Linked DNA regions of Homo sapiens: region 2 is linked to region 1. The links come from fine-mapping of genetic effects on gene expression. Tissue or cell type: whole blood. Region 1 holds a variant in brackets; the other region holds the start of a gene. All regions are shown on one strand. Distances are from middle to middle.

Evidence for each region. PIP is the estimated chance that this variant, and not a neighbour inherited with it, causes the effect.
Region 2: NRP1 starts here. The variant in region 1 is fine-mapped to the expression of NRP1 in whole blood (TOPMed, PIP above 0.99).

The regions. Positions count from the first base shown.
Region 1 is chr10:33,945,643-33,953,749 of GRCh38, forward strand. No RefSeq gene overlaps it. Among named protein-coding and RNA genes, the nearest start is that of LINC02629, 46 kb to the left of the region's middle. The variant T/C (reference allele first, on the strand shown) is at 4,699.
Region 2 is chr10:33,330,023-33,338,129 of GRCh38, forward strand. NRP1 (neuropilin 1) reads right to left here and starts at 4,645. Exons shown (of 17, transcript NM_003873.7): 1 at 4,288-4,645; 2 at 686-860. The coding sequence starts at 4,360.

The sequences.
Region 1 (8,107 bases):
GATATTAAATTAACTAAAAGTATCCCTTAAGGGAAACAAAGGGATGGGCCGAATTAATTGCAGCAGGAACATGCCCTTAAGACACAGATCGCTCATGCTTTTGTTTGTGGCTTAAGAATGCCTTTAAGCAGTTTTCTGCCCTGGGCAGGCCAGGTGTTCGTTGCCCTCATTCCCGTAAACCCACAACCTTCCAGCTTGGGCGTTAGGGCCGTTAGGGCCGTTTACGGACATGTTACAGTGCTGCAGAGATTTTGTTTATGGCCAGTCTTGGGGCCAGTTTATGGCCACATTTTGGGGGGCTTGCTCCCAACATCCAAGTTTTTACGGAGAATTCCAAGAGGCAAAGAATAAGAACACAAGCCAGGACTCCTCCTCTTCTCTCACATGCCCCTTACTCCCCAGATCACTCAACTCTTCACCATTCCCCAGATTCCATTTTCCACTTGGATTTTCTCTTTCCCAGTCAAGCCGTGGGGTGAGACATTTACAAGAAAAAAAAAAGACTTCTATTACAAAGTGGATCTGCTAAAAGATAATTATCTTTTAGCATAACTCTACTATACTAAAAGAGTCACTATTTTATTTTCCCCTGCCTTACCAAACACCTCCTTTTGTTCTGTAATGTGTCACTTGTTTGGGTCAGCATTTCCATCAGTGCTAGCAAGGACTGAATATGTAAAAGAAGGAAGGAAACCCTTCATTGTAATGAATTTAAATGCCTTGTGAAACTGGTAGGAGATTTATATACCAAAATAGCAAGAGTGCTTTCCTCTGGGCATTAAGATTCCAAATAATTGTTAATTGTATTTATACATACACACTTTTGTTTCCATTTCCTACTATTGGTATATAAAAATTTAAAAAAAAAATAAACATTCTACAGCTATTGACAACATTTGCAACAATGTTCAACATCGTTCTCTGTTGGTCCACAAGTGCATTAAAAGAAACTATAATATAGAGAAGAAAATTAAGCGGCCATTAAGACACCCCTACAGAGCAGTGTTTTCTTTGAACCAAATCTGAACAGAATCTCACATCACCTTCTTTATGTGCTCCAATTAGATCATACCTCCTAAATTATTTTAAGGCAACACACACCTTGTACAGTGTATTAGTCTGTTCTCATGCTGCTGATAAAGACATACCCGAGACTGGGTAATTTATAAAGGAAAGAGGTTTAAGGGACTCACAGTTCCACATGGCTGGGGAGGCCTCACAATCATGGCAGAAGATGAGGAAGAGCAAAGAGACGTCTTACATGGTGGCAAGCAAGGGAACATGTGCAAAGGAACTCCCCTTTATGAAACCATCAGATCTTGTGAGGATTATTTACTATCATGAGAAGAGCATGGGAAAGACCCGCCCCCATGATTCAATTACCTCCCACCAGGTCCCTCCCATGACACGTGATAATTATGGGAGCTACAATTCAAGATGAAATTTGGGTGGGGACACAGCCAAAGCATATCACACAGTTTCTCAAAAGTTTGTTTCGCAAAGCTTCCTCCCAGTCTCCTTGGATGTCCTGCAGTTCAACTGCAGTGGAGCAGTGAGTCTGAATGCACTCTATACCCCTTCTCCTTAAGACTCCAGTTCAGTATTTATTAGGAGATTTGCATCCCCACACAAGGCAGGGAAGTCTGAATCTCAGCTTTGGTGATGAAAGTGTTAATTACTATCGGAAGCCAGTCTAGATTTTATGCATTTTGCTGGCCTTACTAGTCATTGAATATACACCACTTTGGAAAAGAGAAAAACTTAGGAGGTATTCATAACAGTTATCATTGATATATATGTTTACCTAGTTACTTACTTTATTTATTTTGTTAAATACAAGTCAGTTAAGTTTCAACCATGTTGTTGATCGCTATGAGAGAATCAACAAATAAATGCAAAAGAGTGAATGTATATTTTGTTAGCGTGTGGCTCTTTTTTTTACCCTGTGTGCAGCCATGGTACATTGACTGTCAATTGCAACCATCTTCCTTAGTGACTCCCACATCTTTAAATGTGCACTTTGCCACAATACCCACATTCTCTTGCCCCTGAAAACAGACTAATTGAGAGGGCGTGCTGTATCACAAAGCATGATTTGCCTAAAAAAAAAGATTGCCATCTCGCTCATTAATTTTACATTACCATACTGTGCTTCTATTGATGTTATCACAATGCTTTCTACAGCTGCTTACTGCGATTGCAAAAATACACAGATTGTTCTGTCATTAAGAAGAGTAAACGATTTTTTGAGTGATGTAAGGAAAGGAAAAAGTTTTATGATCATTCTCTCTGGCTATGGTAAACTGTTCTTTGATTACAGTATGAGTTTATGTGTAAACAGTTGTGTGTAATATACATCGTGGTAGAGCTACTTCACTGCTCTGGTGTAATTGAACCATTTTGAGATGTCTTGCTCGCCTGCAGAATGTTAGTTTTATGGCACATAAACGAAAGAGGGTATTGACATTGTTATAAAGATGTGACTCCATCTCAATTTTTCCTGTTATTCCTAAATCACTGAAAAATGAATGAGAAAGGATGGCCACAGAGGAACTACCAGAGTAGCTGTCATCATGCAGGCATGTCAATAGACCAGAAAACACCACCACCATTGAAAACACTTTGGAAACAAAAACAGTATTTTGTTGTGGAAAAAAAAGTACTGGACTGGGAATCAGAAAGTGGGTTTGAGATCCCAATCTGTCACTTATTTATGGAACACTATGGGTAAGTGCAGCATATCCCTTTGCTGAGAGCCTGGGCTTTATACATAAGACAGAGCTCCACCACTTACATCGATGGGTGACCTTGAGCAAAGAACTCCATGCGCCTCAGTTTACTTCATCTAGGAAAGTGGGATAATAATAGTACCCAACCCATGAAGTTGTAAATATTACATGCAATAATGCATGCAAAGTGCTTAGCACAGTGTCTGCTAGACAACAAACATCCAATAAATAATAGATATCATTATTGTTATTAAGACATGATTCCTGGGCTTTAAGTTCTTCAGCTCTGTAAGGTAACTAGATGAGACAAGATCTAAGGGCTCATCCAGGTATAGTAGTCTATGACTGAACTAGAGAATGATTTTATTCATTTACTTATGCATGTATTTATTTGTTTGAGAGGGTCTTGCTCTGTCCCCCATGCTGGAGTACAATGATGTGATCCTAGCTCACTGCAGCCTCTCTCTTGGGCTTAAAGGGCCTCCCACCCCAGCCTCCAGAGCAGCTAGGACTACAGGTGCATGCCACCACACCTGGCTAATATTTATTTATTTATTTATTTTTTGTAGAGACAAGATCTTGCTATGTTGCCCAGGTTGGTCTCAAACTCCTGGCCTCAAGCAATCTTCTTGCTTCAGCTTCTCAAAGTGATGGGATTACAGGCATGAGCCACTGCATCTGGCCCTGATTATACTTTACAAAAGAATTTCTCACAAAAAGATTCAAATAAAAATCATATGTCATTTTATTCATAAAATATATTAATCAGGCCAGGTACAGTGGCTCACCTGTAATCCCAGCACTTTGGGAGGCTGAGGTGGGCAGATCTCTTGGGGTCAGAAGTTTGAGACCAGCCTGGCCAACATGATAAAACCCCATCTCTACTAAAAAAAAATACAAAAATTAGCCGGGCATCGTGGTGCATGCCTGTAATCCCAGCTACTAGGGAGACTGAGGCAGGAGAATCACTTGAACCCGGGAGGCGGCGGTTGCAGTGAGCCAAGATTGCATCACTGCACACCAGCCTGGGTAACAGAGCAAGGCCCTGTATCAAAAAAAAATTAATCTATATTTTAGAAAATTTATGTGTGGTAAAGACCTAAAACTAGCAAAAGTGTGGGGATTGAGATTCTGTTTCTCTGTGTTGTTTATCTTTCACAGTAGACAAATATTTTGCAGGCAGGGATTATGTCTTATTTGTCTTGGGAATCCTAATGTTCAGCTCACTGAGGGATTTAAAAAAAATGTAAATGAATAAATGATTTAATGTTAGAAACAAGAAGCCTAAAATCTCTGCCTTTACAGAGAATACTGTTGAGTAATAGGTACTTTAAAGAAAAATAAAGACATTTAAAAAATCCTTCATGAATTGTGAAGTTTTCAATAGAGTGTTTTAGAGTTGGGGAAGGAGAGCAGAGACCCTCAAGAACTCATAAGACCATGAATTCTGTTGAAGTTTCAGCCTCAATCCCACATTCTCATTTCAGAGTAAAGACTAGAATTAATGTATCTCAAATGTATATGCCTTTGAGAGTGGAAGCTCCATCTATTCATCCAACCACCTGTCCAACATATTCTTCCTGTTCCTTTGGCTTCATTTGAAGAAGGGAGCTGAGAAGAGTTTAGCTTACATCTATGCGACATAACTAGGCCACGATTCCTAGCAGTCTATAACTTAATGTTTCTTAAAGGACTGTGACCAAAAATCTGTCTCTCTTGCTATCTGCCATTTCTGAAAGCTAATATTATGCCAATGACACGTGATTCTGTTGGGTCAAGCCATTGTTCTCTGCTATTAAATAAGTTTTCCTATCATGAAAAAGAAAAGCATAAAAGGGGCTAAAAAGTAAAAAAAAAAACCCTTGGACTGAAATTTGCAATTTTAGTGAGAACGGCCAAAGAAGGCCTCACTGAGGATGTGACATTTGAGTACAGACAAGAATGTGAGGGAGTGAGCCACTTTGATATC[T/C]GGGGGAAGAACATTCCAGATGGAGGGGGAACACCAGATGCAGGGGAAACAGGTGCAAAGGCTCTGATGGGGAGTCTGATTCATGTGTTGAAGGAACAGGAAGAAACTGGTGTGGCTGAGATGGAGGGAGCACAGCAGGAGATGCAGTCAGAGAAGGAAAGGGGAGGAGGCCCAGGTCCTACAGGGCCTTTCAAAGGATTTGGCTTTTACTTTGAGTGAAAAGAAATTCCTTGCTTGAGGCCAGAAGTTCAAGACCATCCTGTGCAACATAGCAAGATCTTGACCCTACAAAAAAATTTAAAAATTATCGGCCAGGCGCAGTGGCTTACAACTGTAATCCCAGCACTTTGGGAGGCCAAGGCGGGCAGATCACGAAGTCAGGAGATCAAGACCATCCTGGCCAACATGATCAAACCCCATCTCTGCTAAAAATACAAAAATTAGCTGGGCGTGGTGGCGCATGCCTGTTATCCCAACTACTTGGAAGGCTGAGGCAGGAGAATCATTGAACCAGAGAGTTGGAGGTTCCAGTGAGCCGAGATTGCGCCACTGCACTCCAGCCTGGCAACAGAGCGAGACTCTGTCTCAAAAAATAAAATAAAATAAAATAATTCCAGGTGTGGTAGCATGGACTTGTATTCTTAGCTGTTCCAGAGACTGAGGTGGGAGGATCTTTGAGCCCAGGAGAGAGGCTGCAGTGAGCTAGGATCACATCACTATGCTCCAGCATGGGGGATGGAGCAAAACCCTATCTCAGAGAAAACTGTTTTACTTTGAATGAACAGAAAACTCTGTTGCCCAGGCTGGAGTGCAGTGGCACGATCATAGCTCACTAAAATGTTGAACTCATAGGTTCAAGCGCTCCTTCTGTCTCAGCCTCCCAAGTAGCTGGGAGTGTGAGTGGAGTCTTACTATGTTGCCCAAGCTGGTCTCAAACTCCTGGCCTCAAGTGGCCCTCCTGCCTCAACCTCCCAAAGCACTAGGATTACAGGTGTAAGCCACCGAACCCGGCCAGATTTTGGAGTCTGAAGAGAGAGGCAACTTGACCTGAGTTGTTCAAAGTGGATTCCTTTGGCTGCTGTGCTAAAGATAGTTGGAGAACGGGGAAGAGGAATAAAGAACATCACTTAGGAAGCTGTTGCTTCTTGGATAAAGAAGTGATCATGGTGGCTTGGAGCATCATAGTAGAACTGATGACAACGAGTTACATCCAGGATAAATGGTGAAAGTAGAGCTATAGGATTTTCTTACAGATAAAATTTAAGATAAGAGACAAGGAGAGGAATCAAAGATGAGCAGATAGAAGGAAACCAGTTCCATTGGCTTCAATGTTAAGACTGTGGGAAAAACAGGTTTAAAGGGAAATATTAGAAGCTCAGCCTTTTGCTTGTTTGGTTTGAGGTATGTAGGAGCAGGCATCTGAGCAGAAAGCTAGAGAGTCTGAAGCTCAGGGTCTGAAGTTATAGCTGAAGGCTTAAGTTAGTAAATATCAGTGAGTAGATGGTATTTAAAGCTCTGAAACTGAATGAGATGACACAGACAAAGTGGATAGATAGAAGAGGATGGTCCAAACACTAAGCGTGGCAGTAATTGAATGTTTTAAATGGGTACCTCCAGAAAAACCAGCAAGAATCCAAGGACTGGCTAGTGAGGAAAGAGGAAAGCCAGGAACATGCGGATCCTGGAAGTCAAGTCACAGAGTATACTAAGGAAGATCCTGGGGACCAGAGGGTCTAACGCTGCTTGTAAGTCCAGTCAGATGATGAAAGAGAATTGACCATTTGCAACATGCTGGTCAACCCATGAAGTGATCATGGAAGTTCTGGTGGCGTCAGCAAAACCCTGATGGAGAGAACGTAGCAGAGAATGGGTGGAGGAAAATTGCAGAGAACATGTATGGTAAAAGCCCAATTTGATTCTATTAAAAAGAAAAGGAGAGAATGGGGGTGACAGCAATAGGGAAATGGTCTCTAGAGATGGGTTTTTTGGTTTGTTTTGTTTTTTCTAAGATGAAAGAAATAGTCACATATTTGAGTGCTGATGGGAAAAACCCACTGGAGCGAAAAATGTGACAATGTAGGAGAAAGAGAAAAATTGTGAGGAAAATTCCCTGGTTTGAGAAAGGAAAATACCTACTGAACAAGTTGACCAGTTGGTTTTAGCTAAAGATCAGGGACAGTTGAAATAGGCAAGTTTATGTGGTTCTTTATTTTCATTCTTTTCTAATGATGAAAATAGATGGGCATTTTTCTTAAGTTCGCATTTGATTAACAGAAGAGCCCCGGAGCTATTATTCTAACATTGCAGATGTTATGGAAATCATTTTAATTCAGCAAATAGCACTTTAACCTGACTTTTCAGGAATGCATCTGTTGCCTGACATAAATTACTCCTAAACAATATAGCTCATTTCTGGCATCGGCCTTGGCACACTGGTTTTTAGGAACAGACTTTTAAATATAAGTTTACCATACAGCGTATGCTTTCTTTATAACAGAAATAATGTAATAATATCTCATATCTGAATTATCTTTCTATACTATGATGCAATAACCTTTTAAATTCCCTTTGATTACGCCCCATCTTCTCAGAATACCAATAGCCCCTATCATATATGTCATTTGTTCAACACTTCATCAACTAGAACCTTGTATTGTTACCTATTTCCTGTGTGTGTGATATATACACGTGTGTACACACCTAGCCATGAATATGTTACGACTAACTATAGAATATGGTCCACTTTTGCTTGTATTTCTGCATTGCTGATGATGACTGAAGCAGTGACCTAAAAACAAGCAAAACCAGGAAATTCCTGGAGAAGCAGTCATTGCCATACTGTCATAAATGCAGAGGTAGGAAACAAATAGAAGCATGAGTGCATGGTGAAATAAGTCTCCTGAACTACTGGGCTCAACACAAATGGCAAGCCTATATGCATTCCTCAAAAGATGAGGCCAGGCGCGGTGGCTCAGGCCTGTAATTCCAGCACTTTGGGAGGCCGAGGCAGGTGGATCATGAGGTCAGAAGATCGAGACCATCCTGGCTAACACAGTGAAACCCCGTCTCTACTAAAAATACAAAAAAATTAGCTGGACGTGGTGGTGGGTGCCTGTAGTCCCAGCTACTCAGGAGGCTGAGGCAGGAGAATGGCACGAACCCAGGAGGCGGAGTGCAGTGAGCCGAGATTGCACCACTGCATTCCAGCCTGGCTGACAGAGCAAGACTCCGTCTCAAAAAAAAAAAAAAAAGAGACAACTTCAACTTCCCAAGACTAACATCAGATCATTTTTATTTTTATTTTCTTTTATTATTATTTTTTTGAGATGGAGTTTCACTCTTGTTGCCCAGGCTGGAGTGCAGTGGCACAATCTTGGCTCATTGCAACCTCTGCCTCCCAGGTTCAAGC
Region 2 (8,107 bases), 620 kb before region 1:
AAGAGATAGCAAGACTAAGCAGGTGGATGAAACACTGATGTGTATTTGAGTTCCCATTGTATTCATCGTGTCTTAACAATTATTTTCTAGCATTTTCCATAAAAGTATTTTAATCAGTAATCCACCATTTACAAAACCCCTCATCTGGCTTATCCTGTAGGCCTTATTTTATTCAATTTGCTTTTTCCATGTCAAACTTACTTAGTAAGATGAATGCAGTTCTTAAATCATAAGATGTGCCACAGTTCAATATATCTCAAATAGTGAGATCTCCAATCACACTATCTGTGGATGCGATGTATATTAGTGATCCACTGTATTTCGTAAAAATACAAGTGAGATTTTTGAGTTTCTAGTTCTTCCCCTCTCCAGGAAAAAAAAAAAAAGAAAGAAAAAAGAAACATACATACTGTATACATTTCTTAACAAGAGTTCCCAAACCAAAAGTGCTAACAGGAAGGAGTATAAGAGCTTACACATTTAACTATAATCTTCCTGGTTTGGGGAACTCAGAAATCACTTAACGTACTTCAATTTCCATACCATTGACATATAATCTGGCTGAGATTGGAATCCCTCCTGGATCCATTTATAATCTACATTGTACACACCGACTTCCCCCCCGTAGACAGGCGTGACCACTAGATGGTGCTGTGGTGCCCTGTTCAAAAACATTCCCACTTACTTGCAGTCTCTGTCCTCCAAATCGAAGTGAGGGTTGAAGTTGATCATAATTCTCTGGTATGGGTCCGGAGCCTGAATCAGCCATTCGCATTTTTCACTTGGGTGATAAGAATGAGGATAACCAGGAGATGTAAGGTACCCGGGGCTTTCAATTTTTATAGTATCGCCACATTTATCTGCAATGAAAGTAAGATTTTAGCAGATCTTTCCTGACAACCTGTTAGGTAATCTAGCTTTATATGTAAATTACTGGTTATTAAACATTCCTTAACTTTTTAAGGGGAACTCTAAAAGGTCCCCGTAAGTCCTTCGTGTGGCTCTGAGTGCAACACTCCAGGAAAAAACACTCTTTGATCTCAGGAAGGTTGACTCAGGCAGAAAGCCAACTGAGATCTGAGAGGACTCTTCCCCCCAGCCCCGAAGTTTCTTCCTAAGGAAAAGGTCTTCTAGCATTAAAAACATTAAATCCCCTCAATTGATGTTAACATGGTCCCCTGGGAGCTTCTGCTAGACTTAATTATCCCCCAAGAAGTGTAATCACATTAAGTAGCAAGTTCTAAGTGGAAAGTGACTGAAAGATGCTGTTCGACCCCTTGTGTTGTTTTTTGATGATAAGCCTGGTCTATGTCATTGATCAGTGGGGATTGTCTTTGATTGGCTTAAAGCCAAACCTTTTGTTGTTGTTGTTTTATCTGCCCATAAATCTAAGTGATTTTGAGTTATCTCTGCTCTTGAGATCCAAATCAACAGAGAACAAAGTATATTTGGTGAAGCAGAAATAATTCTGCTTTACTTCTCCAAGTAAAGTTGTTCAAGCTTGGAGATCGGATCAAAGCAACGGGGCAGAAGGAAAAGTAAATAGCCACATGGCATTAATTCTAATTACCTAAATGTTGGGTGAAAAATAACCCACCACACAGGTCTGGGTATCACATATGGTAACCCACATTCTCACATTCTGGGAAAGGTGAGCTAAGTAGTTTTGAGCCTTCATTTCAAAAATGCTCAAGTGAAGCCAAATAAACCAAGTAAACCAGTCTCTGGGCTGCCTATATTGTTCAGCATAGATTCTCATTGTCACATTTTATGATGGATTTCATACTGGAGCACCTCAGCCTGAAATGCTGCCACATTTATTGATGCTTAATTTTGAGCAATAAAAATTCGGTGCATAAACTATATAAGAGAAACGGTATGAAAACAGTGAAATATATAAGCCTATCAATCACAAATTTTCAGTAATGGTAGATGTAGATTTTAACACTGCATCTAATAGATTCCCTGTGGAAAGAGAATGGCATTCTTTGCTCTCAGCATGAATTTATAAATCTACAGAATTTTATTACAGGAAAACCAGGTCAAATGGAAATGAAAGATGAAGTGCACATCAAAAATGCATAAAGCTACATGCATTACAGAAATCATTTCCCATAAATTAAAAAAAGAAGACAATATAAGTTATATTGTTTTTCTCAATCGCTAGGTGCTTCTGACTTTGTTCCTTAGACTGGGGGTAGTCTTATGCTGGTTTCCTTTGCACTGGCTTGTAAAAGTGTAAGCTTTGCCAGGAAGAAATGATGTTGCAACTGGAGTTCAAAATCTCAGCTAATGATCATGTTGGACTCTGTTATGTGATTCTGCTGAGACTCTTGCATTATTTTGAATGTGCAGAAAACTTGGAAAGTGACCTCGTCTCATTAAGTTTCCTCTAGCTCTGGACAAACATCATGGTAGTGTCTGGCATCTGTTACAGGAGTGAAATAAAACAGCACTGGTTCTAGTCACTCGACAGAGTCACTTCAGAAGACATTTAGGTGGACTTGGTACCACACCAGAGCTCTTTAATCTGTGACTTCTGAGAAAGTGACAGTGTAATAAGATAATGTGGACTGCTAGACTCCCTGGCTCTGTTCAATCTCTCTAGCAGTTGATTAAGAAAGAGCAGTTTCTAATGACTCTGGACCATTAGTCCTAAATAAGGTTAATGAATTAATTTAGCAGACACTGGTTACTCAGAGGAGGTGGACATGGCTTTGAGAGGTCTGCTGAGTTACAGAGGCATTTTCTGGCTCTGGTCACTTCAAGCATAGCGACATGGCTTTTGCTGGTAAAGCTCAACAACTAAAGCCAGATTTTCAGCATTCCCCAGATTTCTGCTAAGAAAACTAAGAAGTGTGTGTGTGTGTGTGTGTACTGCATATATATTTGTGTAGTTCACAACCTAAAGTCTGATAGCTCTTTGCATTGAGCTTCAAATCTATCTTGTGAACACCCCCACTATGGATTTAGTCTCAAGAGTTGTGGAGGACAGGGTTACTATAATTTCTAGTCCAACCATTTGAGCTCTTTCAGTTGGACGAGAATGCTATTTCATTCCCTGCCAGAGTATAGAAAGATGCTACCAGCTCAGGTTCATTAATAAATTGAATTCTACATTCATAATTTTTTGTGTCTTGCTTTCCTGCCAGATTATAGAAAAATGCCATCAACTTGGGCTCATTAATAAGCTGAATTCCATGTTCATAATTTTTTTTTTTGCATGTGTTTTGCTTTAAGCATCTCTTAAAATACTGCTTGGTAGCTGCTGAGGGAAATCCATTGCTAAAATCACAAAACCTTGAAAAAGCATATTAGAGAGATTAACTTCCATCATAAAGATGTGATTTAAATTCCTGTTGGTATGAGGCCCTCCACTTGCGGTCTCTTATTAAAACAATATACCACAGTAAGTAGTGGATGTTCTTTTCTTCTAATTACTGTGATTGAAATCTAAGCCAGACAAAAGTAAATATTTGATCATTAGTTAATAACAATTGCTGACGACTTACTGTAAAGATAATTGCATACCCTTGCCTGCACTTACTTTACAGTGTGAAGTCAAACATGCCTACAACCAGATCCCATTTTAAAACACATTATTTAGGTTACATGGTACTGTTTAGACCCCAGTATAGTTTTTCATTTACTTAACAGTGAGTGATTTTAAAAGCTAAGTGGAAGCTGCAACTAGCTTAGGGATTTTCAGATATCCTGGTGCCTTACACTGTATATGTCAGATTCCTGTATTGATACTATGTAACTTTCAGTCATACTCCAGACAGATTACGGAAGGTGTACAAAGGCGGGGGAGGGAGTTTCATCAACCCACAAACCGATATCTCTGGCCGTCACCCACCAGAGGAAACGGCTTAGGGGAGCAGCAAAGGAACCAGGAAGTAAGATCTCCTGGTAAAGTGTTCATTAACTTTCAACAGCCATCAGATTTTTGAAAGGGAGTCTCTTCTAATTGCCTTTGGGAGGAAACATTATTAAGATAATTGGCATGCTGATCTGGGAAGGTAGACAGCTCTGTCTTGTAACAGAGGTAAGGAAAAGCCCCACAGCCCAAGGATCAACGTCAGGAGGGAGCCCAAAGACCTGAAATCCTCCTGCTCTAAACCGCCTGATCTCATTTCTTCTTCTCTCCTCCCAGATAAAAGTTTCCTTCGCCCGGGAGTCGGTTGTTCCCGGCTGATCCCGGGAAGCCCCGCCTGAGCCCCGGTCCGGGGCGGGCAGCTGGGAGCCGGGGCGCCGCTGTCACCCGCGCCTCTGCCTGTCACTTACCGTTGCGAAAAGCGCCGGCCGGGGCGAGGACGAGGGCGAGCACGGCGCAGAGGAGCGGCAGCCCCCTCTCCATTCTCCCTTCTCCGGGTCCGCAGGCAGACGCGGGAGAACGAGGACGTGGGGGGAAATGCAGCAAAGAGGAGAATCTAAGCGATCCGAAGAGCCCCAACTCCGCCTAGAGCTGTACAATCCTCAGCCCGTCTTGGAGAAAAGAAAGCAGCGAGGCAATGCCTGGATCCGAGAGGAACGCTTCTCTTTTTGTGTCTCAAGTCGCCTGCATCCTGTCATTTAGCTCCGGCTTCCTCTCCCTTTTCCCACACTTGTTCCTCTTCCAGGAGCCACTGCCCGGGCCATGTCTCAAAAAAAAAAAAAAAAAAAAAAAAGGCCGGGGGGGGGCTGTGGGTGGGAGGGGGAGGAGGGAGGTAGGGCAACACACACCAAAGCCAATTTCCAGGAAGAAAAAAAAAAAATCCGGCTTGTTTCTGGACCCGTTGGAGCCGCGGAGCTGGCGCCCAGGGGAGGTCCGGGTGTCTGCGGGAAGGAGGGGAACGAGCAATGAAAAGATGAGCGGGAGACAGAGGAGTTTCACCAACTGCACCCCCGCCTCCCCTCCTGCGGCCTCCCCCCACTCCGGAGCCCTTCCCTCGCTTCCTCCCGCCCCTCTCCCCGCTTGGGCTCGCCTGTAATTGCCTGACAGGAGACTGGGAGGAACAACTTTCCCTCCGAGTGCTCTCCCCGTCCGTCTGTCTGTCTTTCCCAGAGACCCTGCAGGGATCTCCGCGGGAAGGAAGGCGCTGGGAGTCTGCGCCCCGGTCGCGTGGGTGCGGGCGTCGGAGGAAGGGGCGCGGAGGTCAGTGCCAGCCGCAGGGTCTGGCCAGCCCACCTCGCGTGCTCGCTCTGCACCCCTAGAGGGAGAGCTGGGCAGCTCCTGCAGGCGCAGATCCCGCCGCCGCGCAGTGCGGAGCGCCCGGGAGGTGGCGGCTGCTTCTCGCAACTTCAAATCCCGGGGCCCGCGCCCTCGGCGGCGAGGAACGCAGGGTCACCCCCTGCCACTCCTCATCGCGCCATCCTGAGACCTGTGGCGGGGAGCAGCGGGGCACCCCTGGACGCCCCTGCCCAGAGCTGGAGGGCGAGGAGGGGAAAGCCGGGCTGGAGTGGGAGCCGCACCGCGAAGCCGGGCGAGGGGCAGCAGTGTCGCTGTGGTGTGAAGCGAAGACAGACCGCCTGGGCGGGCGAGGCCGGGCTGCAGCCCCACGCGGCCTCCCTGGCCCGCATCAGGGCGCGCGGCTGGGTGCCCTCTGCGCGCCGCGGAGGCTTCATTGTTTCCCGAGATTTGGTGCCCGTTCCTCTGGGGCAGAGGGAACACCGGAGGGTGGGAGGTGCTGCGCCTTCCAAGCAGGGGGGCAATCGCCGCCCGACCCCGCCCAACCTTGTCTGGGAGCCCAGGTGCTAGGGAGGGGTGTGGAAATCAGGGGTCGGGCGGCCCCCGTTTCTCTGTGCATCCCGAGGGAGGGAAAGAGTGGCGGGGGAGGGGTGCTCTTCGCTGCGCCCTCTCAGTGTCCGCTCCCGGCCACAGACAACGTGCACGCCGGCCCTGGAGCTCCTGCCACCCCCACTTCCCACAGCGGCTCGTGCCCCCAGCCCGCTGGATGCCCCCCAGGCCCGTCCCCGAGGGTTTTCCGAGAAGTGCTGCAGGAAGCGTTTGTAGATGCGAAAAGCAAGGACATTTCTGGGAAGAAACAGGTTGCGGTCACCGATCAGGCCCCGGAGAAGGGTCAGTGCCCACGGGGCACCTCCCAGGGAGTTTGTGGGTAAGGTGAAAAGGTCACACGCCTCCTGGGGATTGGCGTCTACACACACAGCCAAAGTACAGCCTGATTCCTACCTGGCACAAATAGCTGGCCAAAGGGAGGTAGGAATGCTGGCAAGGAGACTCTGGTCAAAGGTTTTGGCGGAAGAAAAAGGGGCGGGCAGGGAGAAAGCCCAAGGCGCGCGGGCCCCAGGCCAGGACTGCGCGCTCGCGACTCGGGCTGGGAGCAGTGACGTGCGCCCCTCGGGGTGCAGGCCGTTCCCGGGCCAGTGGGAGGTGCACCCACGGAGCCCGCACTCGCCACTCTCTTGCCCCGGGTCAAGCCTGTCTTCTCCTCCCCACGCGCCTCGGGATTCCCAGTCGCCAAGTTGGAAACTCGGCCCCCCCGAGCGCCTCTTTCCTCTGCCAGTTTCCTCCTTCTTCTCAGCTGTCGGACCCCTGGGAGGCGCGGGGTGGGAAGTGGGCACCGAAGGGCTGGGAGTTAAATGCCTAAGTTGAGCGGAAGGAGCACTGTCGAAGCCATGGGCAGCCCTGCGCCCGGGCAGGCGGGCAGGCGGGAGGCGAGGCGGGGGCGCCGACCGCGCCCAGCGCAGACCCCGGGGGAGTGAGCGCCGCAGAGGCAGCCTGGGCTCTCGGCTACTACCCGCGCGCGGTCGCCGCCTCCCCAGGTGCAGCCCCGCCAGTCCCAGCCCCCGGCTGCGCCGGGCGAGCGGCATCATCAGATTTAGGGTGACCCGGAGCGACCTCGGTCCAGGCTCGGAGGGAGAGGCGCCTCTCAGGACCTGGCAGGTTGACAGGGAAGGGGAACCGGGAGGGAGCGGCGGCCGGGGCGGCCTGGAGTCTCGGAGGCCCGCCTGCGTCCTGGGGGGACCCGACCTCCGCGCTCGCTCCGGAGCGCCCGTTTGGATAGCTCTGAGCCTCGGCGGGGTGAGCGAGGGGGCACACGAGGGAGACTTGAGCTGTGTTGTTTTTAGAAAACTGCCGCCAATCTCTCTTCCCCTTTCCCTGCTGAGTGTGCATTTTCCAGCCTAGACCCGCCAGGCCAGCAAATAAAGCCACCGGATCGTGCACTCCGGAGCGACTGCCCCCACCCCGACCTTGTCTTTCCCGAAGGGAATGGCTCCTCCGGCGCCTCAACGCACAGAAAACGCCTGCCTCCAGCTGAGCGCTTTTGCCAGCTTTCTCCAACCAGTGAATAAGGGATGCACTATGGACTCAGAAGGAAATGTCATATTTAAGTTCTGCCTCTGATTTCTCTGCTCTTAGCTGATCTAAGGTTTTTCTAGACTCCTTAGTTTCCACTCACAGTGCTGGGTAATGGAGCCCTACCGCACTGATTGAGAATTGCCGGCCAGTGGGTTGGTACAGAGCAAATTGTCCTTGCTAACAACCTTTTTCCTTTGCTGTTGGATTCCACTAAGTGGTGAGAGGGGTCAGTTTTAGATTTTTGCAATTCCCCAGCGTGGAGACAGGCCGGCTCTATACGAGAATAAGTGATAGGCAGAGGAAGAATTTGGCAGTGTTCCCGGGTTGATTTTATTTTGGTCTCTTGAACACATTATTCTTCCTGATAGAACAAATCCCTGGACTTGGTAGGACCCAGTTCCAGGGAAGGGAAGAGTCCTCTACCGCACCCCCAGAACGCCCTGCAGAGGCTGTGAGTGGGCAAAGCCCAGTTTCCTGGACTCCCACTTAGGAGGTGCTGCAGAAATAAGGCCTTCAGCTGGGGCTCCCTGAGTCGGATTGGAACCGTGGCCCATCAGTAAGAGTAGACTGGATGGTAACTGCTCGATTCCTTTCATCAAGCTCTCATCCCTTTGTCAGAAATAGATGAAATCGATTGCTCCCAGAAGGCCATTTGAGCCACTAACTCCCTCAAAGTACTTCAGATTCATGCAATATGGAGATTCGGGTTGGTAGTTCAAACTGCATCATATCTAGTCAAGTTTTTTGAAAACATCAAACCCATAAATTTCAGAAAAGCAATACAAGCTCCATATTTTTAGTAGG